Homo sapiens: one gene and its partners. The protein of the gene in region 1 purifies or fractionates together with the protein of each later gene. This does not show direct contact. Each region holds a gene or a part of one and is shown on either strand. Other genes may lie near its edges.

Region 1 (3,775 bases):
TTATCCATTCTTTCTCTTTATAATAAATTTGGACTAAAGTAAGATATATGATTGTAATAGTAATTTATATATTTTATAGCTTATAACATAGGCCTATAATAGCAATAGTAGTCCTGTATTGGTGGCCAGTTGTAAATTATTAAGTCATGGCTATGGCTACAAAATTAAATAGATTTTATTGGTTATTCTTTTTGAATTCTTTCTTCAGATACAGAAGTTTACGGTGAGTTTTATCCCGTGCCACCTCCCTATAGCGTTGCTACCTCTCTTCCTACATACGATGAAGCTGAGAAGGCTAAAGCTGCTGCAATGGCAGCTGCAGCAGCAGAAACATCTCAAAGAGTAAGAAAATTTCATCATTTCTTTTGATAAAATTATTTTCGTTAATTGATATATACATTTAGTAATACTAAAAACAGTTCTTTGTGTGTAAGTGTGTATGTAGATTTTTTTTGAGCATTATGGGTTTAAACTGCACAGGTCTACTTGTATGCAGATTGTTTTAAATAAATATATTGGAAAAATATTTTGGAGATCTGCAGCAATTTGAAAAAACTTGGGACAAATTGCATAGCCTAGAAATATCAAAAAAATTAAGAAAAGGCCTGTAATGAATGTATAAAATACATGTAAATAGTAGTTTATGTATTATCGACTGTTTATGTTATCAGTAAGGCTTCTAGTTAACAATAGGCTGTGAGTCGTTAAGTTTTGGGGAAGTCAGAGTTATACTCAAATTTTCTACCGCATGCAGGTGGGTCGGTGTCCCTAACCCGTGTATTGTTGAAGGGTTACTGTATTTGTTCTACTGTTGCTTATGTGTGTGGTCACTTTTTGTTGAAATTGGCATTCTCCTAGTTAAATTCACCTTCTTTATCCCTTGACTTCCTCTTTTCTATTGCTCTTCCCCGCTTATCCCTTCCTAAATTTTGATTTCAGGCCCCTCATGTGTTAGCCTTCACTTCGCATCCTAACTCACTCACTCTGGTTACCACCACTTGGAAAGTTCTTCTCTTTGCCTGGACCTCAAGTCCACTGACCTCTTTGCTGTCCATGTACTTATTTATCTTCTTACATAGTTTGAATTCCATGGCCTATCATTTTAATTGTGAATCATCTTTTTTTCTATTTATGTTTCTATATTAGCATAGCCAGTTTAGTGACTGTGAAAGAACTCAAGGTAGCCAAAAAACACAGAGAAATGTTACAAGGCCTTCAAATTATTTTTGTCAGCTGTTTTTTTTTTTTTTTTTTTTTTTGATAACATTCTACTCTAGAATTTTGGAATGATGATCAAGCATTCTGTCTTCCTCATCTACATGTTTTAGTAATGGAGTTAATGAGATACATGTGTATTACTCTTTGCTCTGGTAAATGGAGTGGCTGTCTCAGTAATGGAGAGTCAGTGAGATACATACACATCTACTATTCTGCAGCCAGGTAAGAGGCAGAAATTATTTACATTTTAGTGTGGCTGCAAGGAGGGCTAGAATTTTTTGCCTTTTTTTTCTTGCTTCAGACTTGAGAGATGCCGTTTCAGATCCCTGGATTCACCCCATTTTGTTCGGGAAAAAGACAAAAAAATCAATTCACCCAGGAAAGCTAGAATTAGGTGAGGAGTCAAGGGAGAGAGATGTGCTTCCATGTATGGCATTCTCCTCTAGCTGCTATGAGGTCAGAGCCCAGCAAGCAGATCCTCTGAGAGAAGAGCATGTGCCCTGAATGTGTTTCTTTGATCAGCAATAACCCTATTTATGCCTGCTCCTACTACCCTCTTCCAGCACACACAGGGTTAAACGTCAACATAAATAGCTTTGGACACAGTTATGAAGGTAGATAAAGACAGTAAACTCCGAATTTATTTTTTATGCCTTTTCCTTCACAGAGGAGGAAAGTAAGTCTCTTAACACAGTGGCATAATATAGCTGAGTCAATAAGAATTTTTGTTGCTTTGAGGGGAACATCACAGAGGAGGAGGATAGATCTAAATAGGGTATTTTTGTCTAAATAAGTTCTCGGTTACTTAGAACACATATATTTGTAAATGAACATGCACATCTCTCAGTGAAGTAGATTGATTCCTCTCTAGCTATGAAAGTCCCAATAACTCCTTTTCTCAGGGGGTGTTTGCCCAGAGACCTTAAGAAGTATTATGGACCGTAGATCATTTACTGCCCTAACTTCCATACAATAGGATAGAATTCTAAAGACAAGGTAGGAAGCATTAAGTCTTGGTAAGTGTGCTTTGAGAAAAGTTGATTTTACCCCTTTTGAAGAGAAAAGTCTGAAGTATTACTGTTCCATTCCCTCATTGTCATCATTTCCAGCACCCTGTTTTAGAAAGTAAATGTAATCCTCAGCCAGAATTGGAACATGTCCATAAAGAAAAGCTCCCTGTTTTTACCTGCTTCTGATATCATTGTAACCCCAGCTTGTGAGCATTGTGGAAAATTTCATAGACAGCAAAGTATTAATAGAATTGTGTACAAGAGACTAACTTAGGTCTTGTAAAAAATCTTATAAATTTACCAGTGCTTCCTAACCCGGTGCTTCAGCACCCTCTTTGTGCAGAGTATGAATGTTTGCATATGAGTCTCCATTACCTGATTGAGATGAAAAATTGGTCAATGCTTGAAAATTGCTAGGAGAGTAGATTTTAAGCGTTCTTGCACAAAAAAAATATTTGAGGTACTGTACATGGTAATTAGCTCAATTTAGCCACTCCACAATGTATACACATTTTAAAACATCATGTAATACATCATAAATATATACAGTTTTTGTCAATTACAAACAAAATTTAAAAATTGAAAAAAAGTCTCATCAAATTAGCATTTGAGTACATTCAGTTGTAAATGAGTCTCAGCTGGGTGAGTTGAAAGCTTGTTTCCTAAATCAACTCTCACTGGGAGAATATAGATAGTCAAGAGACTTTAAAACTACTGTTTTTACTATTTCCTATTTCTGATGTGTAGAATTGCACGTATGTTATGGAATGGTTAAGTAGATTTCTGAAAATGACAACTCATTGTTAATATTTCTATGAAAAATGCTAATTCCAAACTATTAATTTTATAAGATGTTTAGAACATGGCTTGTTCTTCAGGTAGACTCATTTCATCTTATAATGGGTAGGGCTCTTTTTTTGTAACTTGTTTTAAATTGTTGCAGTAACTTGTCTTTTGACTAGATAAATCATGAGCAACACCAGGACAGAGATCTTGCATTTACATTCCCAGTACCTAGTTATTTATCAGGCACATTTTTGTTGTTTAGTCAATGACAGTTGATTAAGTTAATGAATGCTTTCTTTGTGTTAGCCAATGTGGGAAAATAGAAAGAGGAAAACACCACAGGTGTTCTGTTACAGCTCTCTATTTTAAAATATTTTGATGTCTTTACCAATTTCAGGATTCACAAATTAATGTTTAATGTAGTTGAAATTATTGCCTAGATACCATTTTATTTTTTAAACATCTTATATAAATATTTCCCTGTTACTTAATAGTTAAATTCCCTGTAATCAATATGCTATTGAAACTTAGTGGCCATTCCTCTAGAGTGAACAATTATTTTCAAATGTTTGTGTTTCGATTTTTTCTATTAATATTATAAAAGACATCTTTGGGCATATTGCAGTGACTCACTCCTGTAATCTCAGCACTTTGGGAGGCTGAGGCAAGCAGGTTGCTTGAGCTCAGGAGTTTGAGACCAGCCTGGGCAACACAGCGAGACCTTATTTCCACTAAAAAGAAAAAAAAAAATCAGCTAGGTG
Region 2 (3,775 bases), on another chromosome or scaffold:
GGATACTTAGGGACGACTGTATTTTGGATCCGCATTTGGTTGCAGATGAGGAACACACTGATACTGTATTTATTGGAAAAAAAAAACCCTCATTATTAAGTGGGCCCATGCAGTACAAAACTGCATTGTTCAAGAGTCGACTGCACATAAAACAAAAACAAAAAACAAACAAAAAGGAAATAGGGCAAAAACTAATAAATACCATAAAACCTATATTTAATATTTTTCCTAGTCACCAATAATTCATTGTAATACTAGTAAAATAATAGCATATTTTATGCCTATCAAAATAAGAATATAAATAATAAAATCCAGTGCTAGTGAGAATAGGGTAAAATGGACACTCTAACATACTGCTTGTGGGAGCATAAAATGAAAGAACCTTCCCAGAAAGCAATTTGGCAGTACGTATCAAGAGCCTTCATAAAGCTTGTACCCCTTTGGTAGAATAAGTCCATTTTCAGCAATTTCTCATAAGAAAATAGAAATGTACACAGAAATTTTAAGTTCAAATTTTTATTTTTATTTATTTATTTATTTTTGAGACACAGTTTCACACTTGTCACCCAGGCTGGAGTGCAATGGTGCGATCTCGGCTCACTGCAACCTCCACCTCCCAGGTTCAAGCCTCATCAGCTGCCCGAGTAGCTGGGATTACAGGCATCCGCCACCACGCCCAGCTAATTTTTGTATTTTTAGCAGAGACGGGGTTTTGCCATGTTAGCCAGGCTGGTCTCGAACTCCTGACCTCAGGTGAAATGCCCGCCTCAGCCTCCCAAAGTACTGGGATTACAGGCATGAGCCACTGCGCCCGGCCGAAGTTCAAACTTTTAAATTAAATTTTGTATTGTTTGGAAGGCCCAGGCAGGGGAATCATGAGGTCAGGAGTTTGAGACCAGCCTGGCCAACATGGTGAAACCCCATCTCTACCAAAAAATGCAAAAATCCGTGGGTCGTGGTGGTGCACACCTGTAATCCCAGCCAATCACGAGGCTGAGGTGGGGGGATCACTTGAGCTCGGGAGGCGGAGGTTGCAGTGAGCTGAGATCACGCCACTGCACTCCAGCCTGGGTGACAGAGTGAGACCCTGTCTTAAAAAAAAAATCTATTATGGTAAAATATACATAACATACAATTTGCCATTTTAACCATTTTAAGTGTGCAATTCAGTGGCATTAATTACATTCATAATGTGGAACCATCACCATTATCTATTTCCAAAACCCTTTCATTACTCCAAACAGAAACTCTGCACCCATTAAGCAGTAACTCTCCATTTCCCCCTTCCCCATCCCCTAGCAATCTCTAATCTTCTGTCTCTATGAATTTGCCCATTCTAGATATCTCATATAAGCGGAATCACACAATATTTGTCTTTTTGTGTCTTTTTTTTTTTCACATAGCATGTTTTCAAGGTTCATCCACATTGTATCAGTACTGTATTCCTTTTTATGACTGGATAATATTCCACCGTATGTACATACCACATTTTGTTTAACCATTCATCTGTTGATAGACACTTGGGTTGGTTACACCTTTTGGCTACTGTGAATAATGATGCTACGAACACTGGCGTACAAGTAGGTTTTGAGTCCTTGTTGTCAATTCTTTTGGCTATTGTTATGGAATGAACTGTACCCCCACTCCCCAGTTCCATATGTTGAAGCCCTAACCCCCAATGTAGCTGCACTTGGAGGCAGAACCTTTAAGGAGGTAGCTAAAGTTAAATGAGGTCATCTGGATGGGGCCCTAATCCGATGGGACTGGTGTCCTTGTAAGGAGAGGATGAGACACCAGTAGTGTGTGAGCACAGAGAAAAGGTCACGTGAGGACACAGCAAGAAGGCAGCCATCTGCAAGCCAGGGGGAGAGGCCTCACCAGAAACCATCCCTTCTCGCACCTCTATCTTGGACTTCCAGCCTCCAGAATTGTGAGAGAAAAATTCCCATTGTTTGAGCCAGCCAGTCTGAGGTATTTTGTTATGGTAACCCAAGCAGACTAATATAGGTATACACCCAGGAGTGGAATTGCTGGGTCATGTGGTAATTCTATGTTTAACTTTTTGAGGAACCACCAAACTTTTCCACAGCAGCTGCATGATTTTACATTCTCACCAGAAATGTATGAAGGTTCCAATTGTTCCACATCCTTAAGTTTAATAATTATGATTGCAGTGTTACAACAATGAATAAAATAGAAGAATGAATAATGTCTAATGACAGAAGACTGCCTGAATAAACTTGAATAGAACCATATGATGGATTATGCAGTCATTAAAATAATATATTAAAGAAACATTTATTAAAGATGTAGAAAAACGCTCAGGATAGAATGTTAAATGACAAAAGCAGGATTAAAAACTATCATGTTACAGTCCAATTTTGCAGAAACACTAGTAGGAAATATAGCAAAATGGAGAGTGAATTTAGGATTAAGTTTTATTTATACTTTCTGCACTTCCCATATTTTCCACAATGAACATGTGTTATTTTGATGAATAAAAGACTACAAAAGAATAAAATACATCAATTTGGGCCAGGCGTGGTGGCTCACACCAGTAATCCCAGCACTTTGGGAGGCCGAGGCAGGTGGATCACAAGGTCAGGAGATAGAGACCATCCTGGCTAACACGGTGAAATCCCGTCTCTACTAAAAATACAAAAAAATTAGCCAGGCGTGGTGGCGGGAGCCTGTAGTCCCAGCTACTCGGGAGGCTGAGGCAGAAGAATGGCGTGAACCCAGGAGGCGGAGCTTGCAGTGAGCTGAGATCGCGCCACTGCACTCCAGACTGGGAGAGAGAGACAGCCTCCGTCTCAAAAAAAAAAAAAAAAAAAAAAAAAGAATAAAATATATCAATTTGAAAGAAAAGTGAGCTGTGTACTGGTGAAAAAATAAGGCTGTAAAAATGGTCTATCTCCTGCTGAGGAAGCTACATCTTTTCAGGAAAGGGAAGAAAGGTATAGAGAAGAATGGTTATACAGATATATATTTTTTACAGTATTTTAAATCACATTTTTTCTGATAATACAAGTAATACATGCTCATTGTAGAAAACTTGAAAAAAATAAAAGGAAAAATGAAGAAATCACAGTAGTGGAGGATGGCATATGAAAAAATGAAGGAAACAAAATCACTCATAATCCCACAACCTATAGATAATAAACTATAAAAATTGTGGCATATTTCCTGTATTTCCTTGCATATTTCTTTATACATCATTAGATTTTTTAAAAATAGGTAACTGACTTCACACTGTAAATGTAGCCTATCTCCCATTTTGTCATTTAGCTTTCTGGTATGAACTCTTTCCATCAGTCTAATGTACGAATGTCCTATTATTTATTTATTTATTTATTTAGAGACAGAGTCTTACTCTGTCGCCCAGGCTGGAGTGCAGTGGCACAATCTCGGTTCAATGCAGCCTCCACCTCATGGGTTTTTTATTCTCATGCCTCAGCCAGGGTCTCAGCTGGGATTACAGGCACATGTCACCACGTCCAGCTAATTTTTGTATGTTTTAGTAGAGACGAGGTTTCACCATGTTGCTCAGGCCGGTCTCAAACTTCTGGCCTCAAGTGATCTGCCCACCTCGGCCTCCCAAAGTGCTGGGATTACAGGAGTGAGCCACCACACCCGGCTCTATAATTTATTTGGCTACTCATCTATTGGTAGACAATTAGGTTCTTTTCAACTTTTAATTGTCATAATAATCCTGAGTTAAACATTTCCACCCCGAAATATTTTCCCACATCTCTGATTTCATGGGACAGACTCC
Region 3 (3,775 bases), on another chromosome or scaffold:
TATTAAATAGTCAGCTACAATGAAAAAATACCAAGTTTCTTTAATTCTTTCAAGATAAAAATAGGTTTATAAATTAATTTATTTATAACTTTTAAGAAAATCTTTTAAGAAAAACATAATACTCTGAGGCAAAAAAAATACTGATTTCTCTCTGAATATGTTTTCTCACATTTCATGTGGAATTCTTTTCCAAGAAACAAAGGGAGGAAGAAAATTTCCACATTTATGTATATAACAAATTTATAGGGTGGCATGCATACCATTTCCATTTTAAAAGACTAAGGTGTTCGGAGCGTGATGTGGGCTGATTGAAAAAAAGTAAAAAAAGGCTAAGATGTGATGGGAAAGTACAAAGAGAAGGATGCTGCTTATCTCTTCAAAGTAGGTTGGACTTCTGTCTCTGGCAGTACGTTGGATGAGATCTCCTAAATAATCTTCCTGATGGAAACAACTAAAATACTGAAATGGACATCTAAATTTTTTTGATGTCTTTTGTGTCATTTTCTTCTATGCCAATTCACAATTTTTGTTTTTCCCCTTCCTGTCTCAGTCATTTATAGGAGAAACCAGGCCATTTTTCCTACTGACTGTCCTACATTCTTGCTTTGACTGGTTGCTTCCTCTTATAACTTAACATTTAAATTTTTTCCTTTATCCTTTGTATTTTCAGTAAGCAGGCAGTTTCATGTAGATGGTTAATTAGATGCTCATTCATATATTTTTTTAATAGGACTACTGTGTGTTCAAGTGGCATCAGCCTGATTCCCTCATTATAAAGTTTCCTGTCAAGCTTTCATATAGCAGTTTTAATATCATTTGTTGATCATTGCACAGATCCATTATTTTTTTATTAGGAATCTGCATTTACTCGCTGCAACCCTAAAAAGAAAATCTCTCCTCAAGTATTTGGTCTACTTGAAATGAAATTCATAAAGGAAAGAAAAGCTAAATACTTGAGTCTTTCTTTTACATATAAATTATTACAGTTATGAGTTAGTGTTCCACCAACTTGCAATAATAACCAATAAGTTTTTTTAAAAAAAACCTCATTACCTTTGAATGAATCAAAGATTAAATCACAGTGGAAATTACAAAACATTTAAAAAAACTAAATGATAACAAAAATATCCACATAAAAATAAGAAGGAGTCTGCTAAAGTAGTACTTGGAGGCCAAGTTACATAGCATTAAAAGCTTACATTAGAGAAGATGAAAGGCTAAAATTAATGAGATAAAATTCCAACTTGAGATGTAGAAAAAAAGAGAACAGAGTAAAAAGAAAGAAATGTGAAGGAAGGAAATACAGAAACAGAAAAGAAACATTCAAGAGAAAGAGTTCAACCAAGCCAATAGTTGGTCCTTAGGAAAGATTAATAAAATTAACAAACCTCTGGCAAACAAAGAAAGAAGGCATAAATTAACATTACCAATGAAAAGATAATATAGCTATAGTTGCTGTGAAGCTTAAACAGATATTAGGAAATATAAGTAACTTTATACCCAACATATTGAAAACTTAAAACAGATAAAATCTTAGAAAATGGAACGCATCAAAACTGACTCAGGAAAATCTAAATTGTCACATAATCATTAATCAACTAAATCAGTTTTAAATTTCTCCATAAAGAAGGCACAAGAGCCTGTTTCCAAAGTTTAAGGAATATATAATTCAAATAGTATTGATTCTAGAGAATAGAAAAAGAGGAAATATTCCCTAATACATTCTACGAGGCTAATGTAACTCTTTTATCAAAACCAGACAAGGATAACAAGAAATATAAATTATAGGCCACAAAAATAATAGTCATAACAAAATGTTATCGAACTAAATTCAACACTGTGTTAAAAAGAGAATACATCATGATCAAATTTGATTTCATGCTGGGGTTGCAAGACTGGTCAAATATCAGAAAATGAATTAATGAAATTAACTACATCAACAGATTAAAGAAAATCATATAATCATTTCAGTGACAAGAAAAAGAGTTTACTCTATCACCTGAAATTCATTTCCAGGTGTTTACTTTAGAGAAACTCTTGTATATGTTCCCAGGAGACACACACAAGAATGTACATAGAAACACAGAAGATAATCCACAAAAACTGGAAAACATCCAAAAACACATCAGTAGTAAAATTAATACATACATTATGGTGTATTCTTATCACAGAGAACTACACAACATTGAAAATGAACTACAGCTACACACATCAACTTAGATCAAAAGTAGAAAAATCACCTAAGAGTTCATATAATGTGACTCTAATAAAGGTATCTTGTAGCTTTATAAAACTACAAGACAAACAAAACTAAAACAACATACACTTTAGGAATACATGCATGGAGGCAAAACTCAAAGAACAACAAAGCAATAATTAACACAAAATTCAAGACAGTGGTTACTTGAGGTCAGGGGAGAGGCTGGTTTTGACTGGGGACCCCACAGGGGTGTCTATGGTCCTGGCAATGTTCTACTTCTTAAGTCAGGAGGTGGACACCCAGGTGTTCATTTTATTATTGATCTTTAAACTGTACATAAACATTTTATAACTCTTTTTTAATGTACTCTATATTTCACAAAAATAAATAAAAGTAGAGGTAAGTTGCTGTCTATTTAAGAGAAATGGTATTGAAACAATTTTTGCCAGTAGCTGCTTGCCTGACTGACAGATTTCCCAGCAGGAACTGGATTTGGAAAGCAGCTTTCCTTCTGTCCATTTCCTGATAAATTATTAATGAGGCTTTGAATTACAGAGAAAAGAGGACATAGAGCACATAGAAAATGTTACAGACCTTATTTCTTATCTAACTCTTCCTAATCCAAAAATTGAGTGGTAATAGTTGTATAACATTATGAATGTAATTAATGTCACTTGAATTGTACACTTAATAATGGTTAAAATTGCAAATGTTATGTGTGTTTAACCGCAATAAAATAAAAGAGATGAAGAAAAGTGACAAGTAGAAAATAGAAGGCAGGAACACACATTAGGTGTGAATGGAGTGCCAAGGAGGTAAAGATATCCCAACATCATCTCAGTTTTGAACAAAGTAACTATTAACACATTAACTTAAGTATTGAATATAACAAATAAAAAAAGTCTACAGGTAGTATCAAAGGCAAGCCTAAATGCTTAGTACCTACTTTGAAGATAGGTCAAAACTACTGGGCTTGAGATGCTAGGGAAAGACCTTTGACCAAAAGAAGAGACTCCTAGTGTAAGTTGCACTTTCACACTGAGGAGATTTTAGGGGGTCTTTCTGGCTCAGCTGCTAAAATAAATGGTTGTGAACATAGCTTGGTTAAGCCATATTTCAAATGTTAACAGTACCTGCTTACAATAAGTTATTCATTGCATGGCTATGTTCTGATAAAAAAGAGTTATATTGTAAGGAAGTGTGATTTACACATCTAACTTTTCACAAAAGCCTATTTTGTTAGATAAACAGACTGTTGTTCTGTACTGTCAAAAAGAATGAAAGTGCCATCAACGGGAGACACAAAGAATATTCTAAGGGGAACTTACTAGGCAGATTCAAAGAATGCCTGAGTCTGCTTGGGCACACCCAGAGATAAGAATGCAGCGTAGGCCTTCTTGACTCCTTGTTCTGTGTTCTTAGGGTTCAATGGGCATGCAAACCAAACCCCAGAGATGGACCACTGCATGAGACAGTGGCAGCACAGGTGCAGTACACAACTCCAGGGCATACTATTCACACAATCCCTAAGAAGAATGGCGCCCCCAGAGCTGGCAACGTGGTGGCCCCACCCAT
Region 4 (3,775 bases), on another chromosome or scaffold:
AAAAAAAAAAAAAAAAAAAAAAAAAAAAAAATGTGGTTTCTAGGAACCTTAAAACAAACTAGGAGTAATTAGAAACAGAATTAACTGTTTTTTTATTGTTATTTTAAGTAGAAGTAAAAATGCCCAACTAAGAATAAAAGTTACTTAGCTGCAAACAGATACCTGAGCCCAGAAAACAGGTTACACAACACCATGAACACACTATTAAGACATGTGAAGAGCAAAGGTCAAGAACAAGGAAACATACACACGTCAGCAGATTTATTTATTGCACCAATACCAAACAGGAAAAGTCTCTCTGCAGATTAGAAAAGTGATCTACTCAAGTAACATGAAAACCAGTGCAAAGGATGTAATGGAACAGAATCTCAGATTACAAGTAACTTCTTAAAGCCTTGTTCCATTAAACTACATGGATGGCTCATTTAAATGAAATATCCTGGATAGATAAATCCATAGAGTAAGTATATTAGTGGTTGTCAGACTGAAGGAAGGAAAAATGGGGAATGATTGCTAATGGGTACTGGGTTTCTTCTTGGGATGATCACATGTTCTGGAATTAGATAGTGGTGATGTTTACACAACAATGTGACTATACTAAAAACACTTAATGTACAATTTTAAAAGGTCGATTTTATGGTATATCAACTATATCTCAAAAAAGCTATTATAGAAAAATTTTAAAAGCAAATTTTAAAAAGCTTATATGGCATTTAATATTTAAAACTGATTTACATGAGTAATTACACAAAACCATTTACTTTTTTTTTTGAGACAGAGTCTCGCCTGTCGCCCAGGATGGAGTGCACTGGCGCGATCTCCTCTCACTGTAAGCTCCACCTCCCAGGTTCACGCCATTCTCCTGCCTCAGCCTCCCGAGTAGCTGGGACTACAGGAGCCTGCCACCACGCCTGGCTAATTTTTTATATTTTTAGTAGCGACGGGGTTTCACCATGTTAGCCAGGATGGTCTCGATCTCCTGACCTCGTAATCCGCCCTCCTTGGCCTCCCAAAGTGTTGGGATTACAGGCGTGAGCCACCGCGCCCCGCCACTTTTTATTTTTTTGACAGAGTCTCCCTCTCACCCAGGGAGCGCCGTCTCTGCTCACTGCAACCTCAATCTCGGGGACTCAAGCAATCCTCCCACCTCAACCTCCTGAGTACCTGGGGGCTACAGGCATAGGCCACTATGCCTGGCTCATTTACTTTTTAAAACCGGCCGGGCGTGGTGGCTCACGCCTGTAATCCCAGCACTTTGGGAGGCCGAGGCGGGCGGATCACGAGGTCAGGAGATCGAGACCATCCTGACTAACACGGTGAAACCCCGTCTCTACCAAAAATACAGAAAAATTAGCCGGGCGTGGTAGTGGACGCCTGTAGTCCCAGCTGCTCGGGAGGCTGAGGCAGGAGAATGGCGTGAAACCAGGAGGCAGAGCTTGCAGTGAGCCGAGATTGCGCCACTGCACTCCAGCCTGGGCGACAGAGCGAGACTCCATCCCAAAAAATAAATAAATAAATAAATAAATAAATAAATAAATAAATAAAACCACACATTAAGGGCCGGGAGCAGTGGCTCACGCCTGTAATCCCAGCACTTTGGGAGGCCGAGGCGGGCAGATCACCTGAGTTCGGGAGTTCGAGACCAGCCTGACCAACATGGAGAAACCCCATCTCTACTAAAAATACAAAATTAGCCGGGCATGGTGGTGCATGCCTATAATCCCAGCTACTCAGGAGGCTGAGGCAGGAGAATCGCTCAAACCTGGGAGGCAGAGGTTGCAGTGAGCCGAGATCGTGCCACTGCACTGCACTCCAGCCGGGGTGACAGAGCAAGACTCCGTCTCAAAAAAAAAAGAAAAAAAATACATATTTAGTTTGTGACCAGCCTTGGCAACGTGGAAAAACCCCATTTCTATAAAAAATACAAAAATTAGCCAGATGTGATAGCATGCACTTGGTGACAGTGAGACCCTGCCTCAAAAAAATAAAATAAAAATAAAAAATACACATTAGTTCTCAGGGGTCCTGTAAAAAAAAAAAATACACATAAGATGACAAAATACAAATACCCAAAAAGTACTATTGGGAGAAAATAAGGGACCTAATAGTCTAAAGAGGCAAATATGACATCAGAGTATGATTGTAGAATCAATGCACTAATAACTTTGGGATGCAAAGCATGGTAATGCTATGGTGAAATGGGTGTAGTAACTGTCCTAGAATACAAATATCCAGGCTGAGCACAGTGGCTCATGTCTGTAATCCCTGCAGTTTGGGAGGCGAAGGCAGGAGGATCACCTGAGACCAGGAGTTAAAGACCAGCCTGAGCAACATAACAAGATCCCATCTCTAAAAAAAAAATTTTTTTTTTTTGAGACTAAGTCTCACTCTGTCGCCCAGGCTGGAGTGCAGTGGCACAATCTTGGCTCACTGCAACCTCCACCTCCTGGGTTCAAGCAATTCTCTGCCTCAGCCTCCCAAGTAGCAGGGATTACAGGCACCCACCACCAAGCCCAGCTAATTTTTTTGTATTTCTAGTAGGGACAGGGTTTCACCATCTTAGCCAGGCTGGTCTTGAACTCCTGACCTCGAGATCCACTCGCCTCGGTGTCCCAAAGTGCTGGGATTACAGATGTGAGCCACCATGCCCGGTACAAAAAATTTTTTAAATTACCTGGGTATGGTAGCAAGAAACTGTAGTCCCAGCTACTCAGGAGGCTGAGGCTGGAGGATTGCTTGAGCCCAAGAATTCAAGCAGTGAGCTATGATCACACCACTGCATTCCAACCTGGGCAACATAGTGAGACCCTGTCTTTAAAAAAAAAAAAAAAAGAAGGATGAACTGGGCATGATGGCTCATACCTGTAATCCCAGCACTTTGGGAGGCCAAGGTGGGGGGATCACTTGAACCCAGGAGTTTCAGACCAACCTGGGAAACATGGGAAGTCCCCATCTCTACAAAAAAAATACAAAAATAGGCCAGGTGCAGTGGCTCATGCCTGTAATCCCAGCACTTTGGGAGGCCGAGGTGGGGGGATCACTTGAACCCAGGAGTTTGAGACCAGACTGGGCAACATGGGAAGACCCCGTCTCTACAAAAGAAAAAATACAAAAATAGGCCAGGCACGGTGGCTCACCCCTGTAATCCCAGCACTTTGGGAGGCCGAGGCGGGCAGATCACGAGGTCAGGAGTTCAAGACCAGCCTGACTAACATGGTAAAACACCTTCTCTACTAAAAATACAAAAATTAGCTGGGCATGGTGGCGTGCACCTGTAATCCCAGCTACTCAGGAGGCTGAGGCAGGAGAATCGCTTGAACCTGGGAGGCAGAGGTTGCAGTGAGCCAAGATCGCGCCACTGCACTCCAGCCTGGGCGACAGAGCAAGACTCCATCTCAAAAAAACAAACAAACAAACAAACAAACAAAAAAAAACAATTAGCTGGGTGTGGTGGTAGGCACCTGTAGTTCCATCTACTCAGGAAGCTGAGGTATGAGAATTGCTTGAACCCGGGAGACGGAGGTTGCAGTGAGCCAAGATCGTGGCACTGCACTCCAGCCTAGGCAACAGGGCAACATTCTGTCTCAAAAAAAAAAAAAAGAAAAAAAAGAAAAAGAAAACGAAGGATAAAACCATGACAAATATAAATAGTAGAAAATTTTTAAGAGTGGCCAAGGTGAGGGCTGGGCACAGTGGCTCATATCTGTAATCTCAGCACTTTAGGAGGCCAAGGCAGGCAGATCACTTGAGGTCAGGAGTTCGAGACCAGCCTGGC

What was found. Proteins that work in one complex are often made in the same cells at the same time.
Region 2: the proteins of NDFIP2 (region 1) and ZDHHC9 purify together in Homo sapiens (affinity purification with mass spectrometry; one large-scale study listed by BioGRID and IntAct). This does not show direct contact.
Region 3: the proteins of NDFIP2 (region 1) and DDAH1 purify together in Homo sapiens (affinity purification with mass spectrometry; one large-scale study listed by BioGRID and IntAct). This does not show direct contact.
Region 4: the proteins of NDFIP2 (region 1) and SAR1B purify together in Homo sapiens (affinity purification with mass spectrometry; one large-scale study listed by BioGRID and IntAct). This does not show direct contact.

Annotation. Positions count from the first base shown.
Region 1 is NC_000013.11:79,533,115-79,536,889, forward strand, and holds part of NDFIP2 (NEDD4 family-interacting protein 2), read left to right. Parts: intron 1-208; coding exon 209-342; intron 343-3,775. UniProt on the Homo sapiens protein: Activates HECT domain-containing E3 ubiquitin-protein ligases, including ITCH, NEDD4, NEDD4L, SMURF2, WWP1 and WWP2, and consequently modulates the stability of their targets. As a result, may control many cellular processes.
Region 2 is NC_000023.11:129,816,358-129,820,132, forward strand, and holds part of ZDHHC9 (palmitoyltransferase ZDHHC9), read right to left. Parts: intron 1-3,775. UniProt on the Homo sapiens protein: Palmitoyltransferase that catalyzes the addition of palmitate onto various protein substrates, such as ADRB2, GSDMD, HRAS, NRAS and CGAS. The ZDHHC9-GOLGA7 complex is a palmitoyltransferase specific for HRAS and NRAS.
Region 3 is NC_000001.11:85,353,631-85,357,405, forward strand, and holds part of DDAH1 (N(G),N(G)-dimethylarginine dimethylaminohydrolase 1), read right to left. Parts: intron 1-3,775. UniProt on the Homo sapiens protein: Hydrolyzes N(G),N(G)-dimethyl-L-arginine (ADMA) and N(G)-monomethyl-L-arginine (MMA) which act as inhibitors of NOS. Has therefore a role in the regulation of nitric oxide generation.
Region 4 is NC_000005.10:134,626,300-134,630,074, forward strand, and holds part of SAR1B (small COPII coat GTPase SAR1B), read right to left. Parts: intron 1-3,775. UniProt on the Homo sapiens protein: Small GTPase that cycles between an active GTP-bound and an inactive GDP-bound state and mainly functions in vesicle-mediated endoplasmic reticulum (ER) to Golgi transport.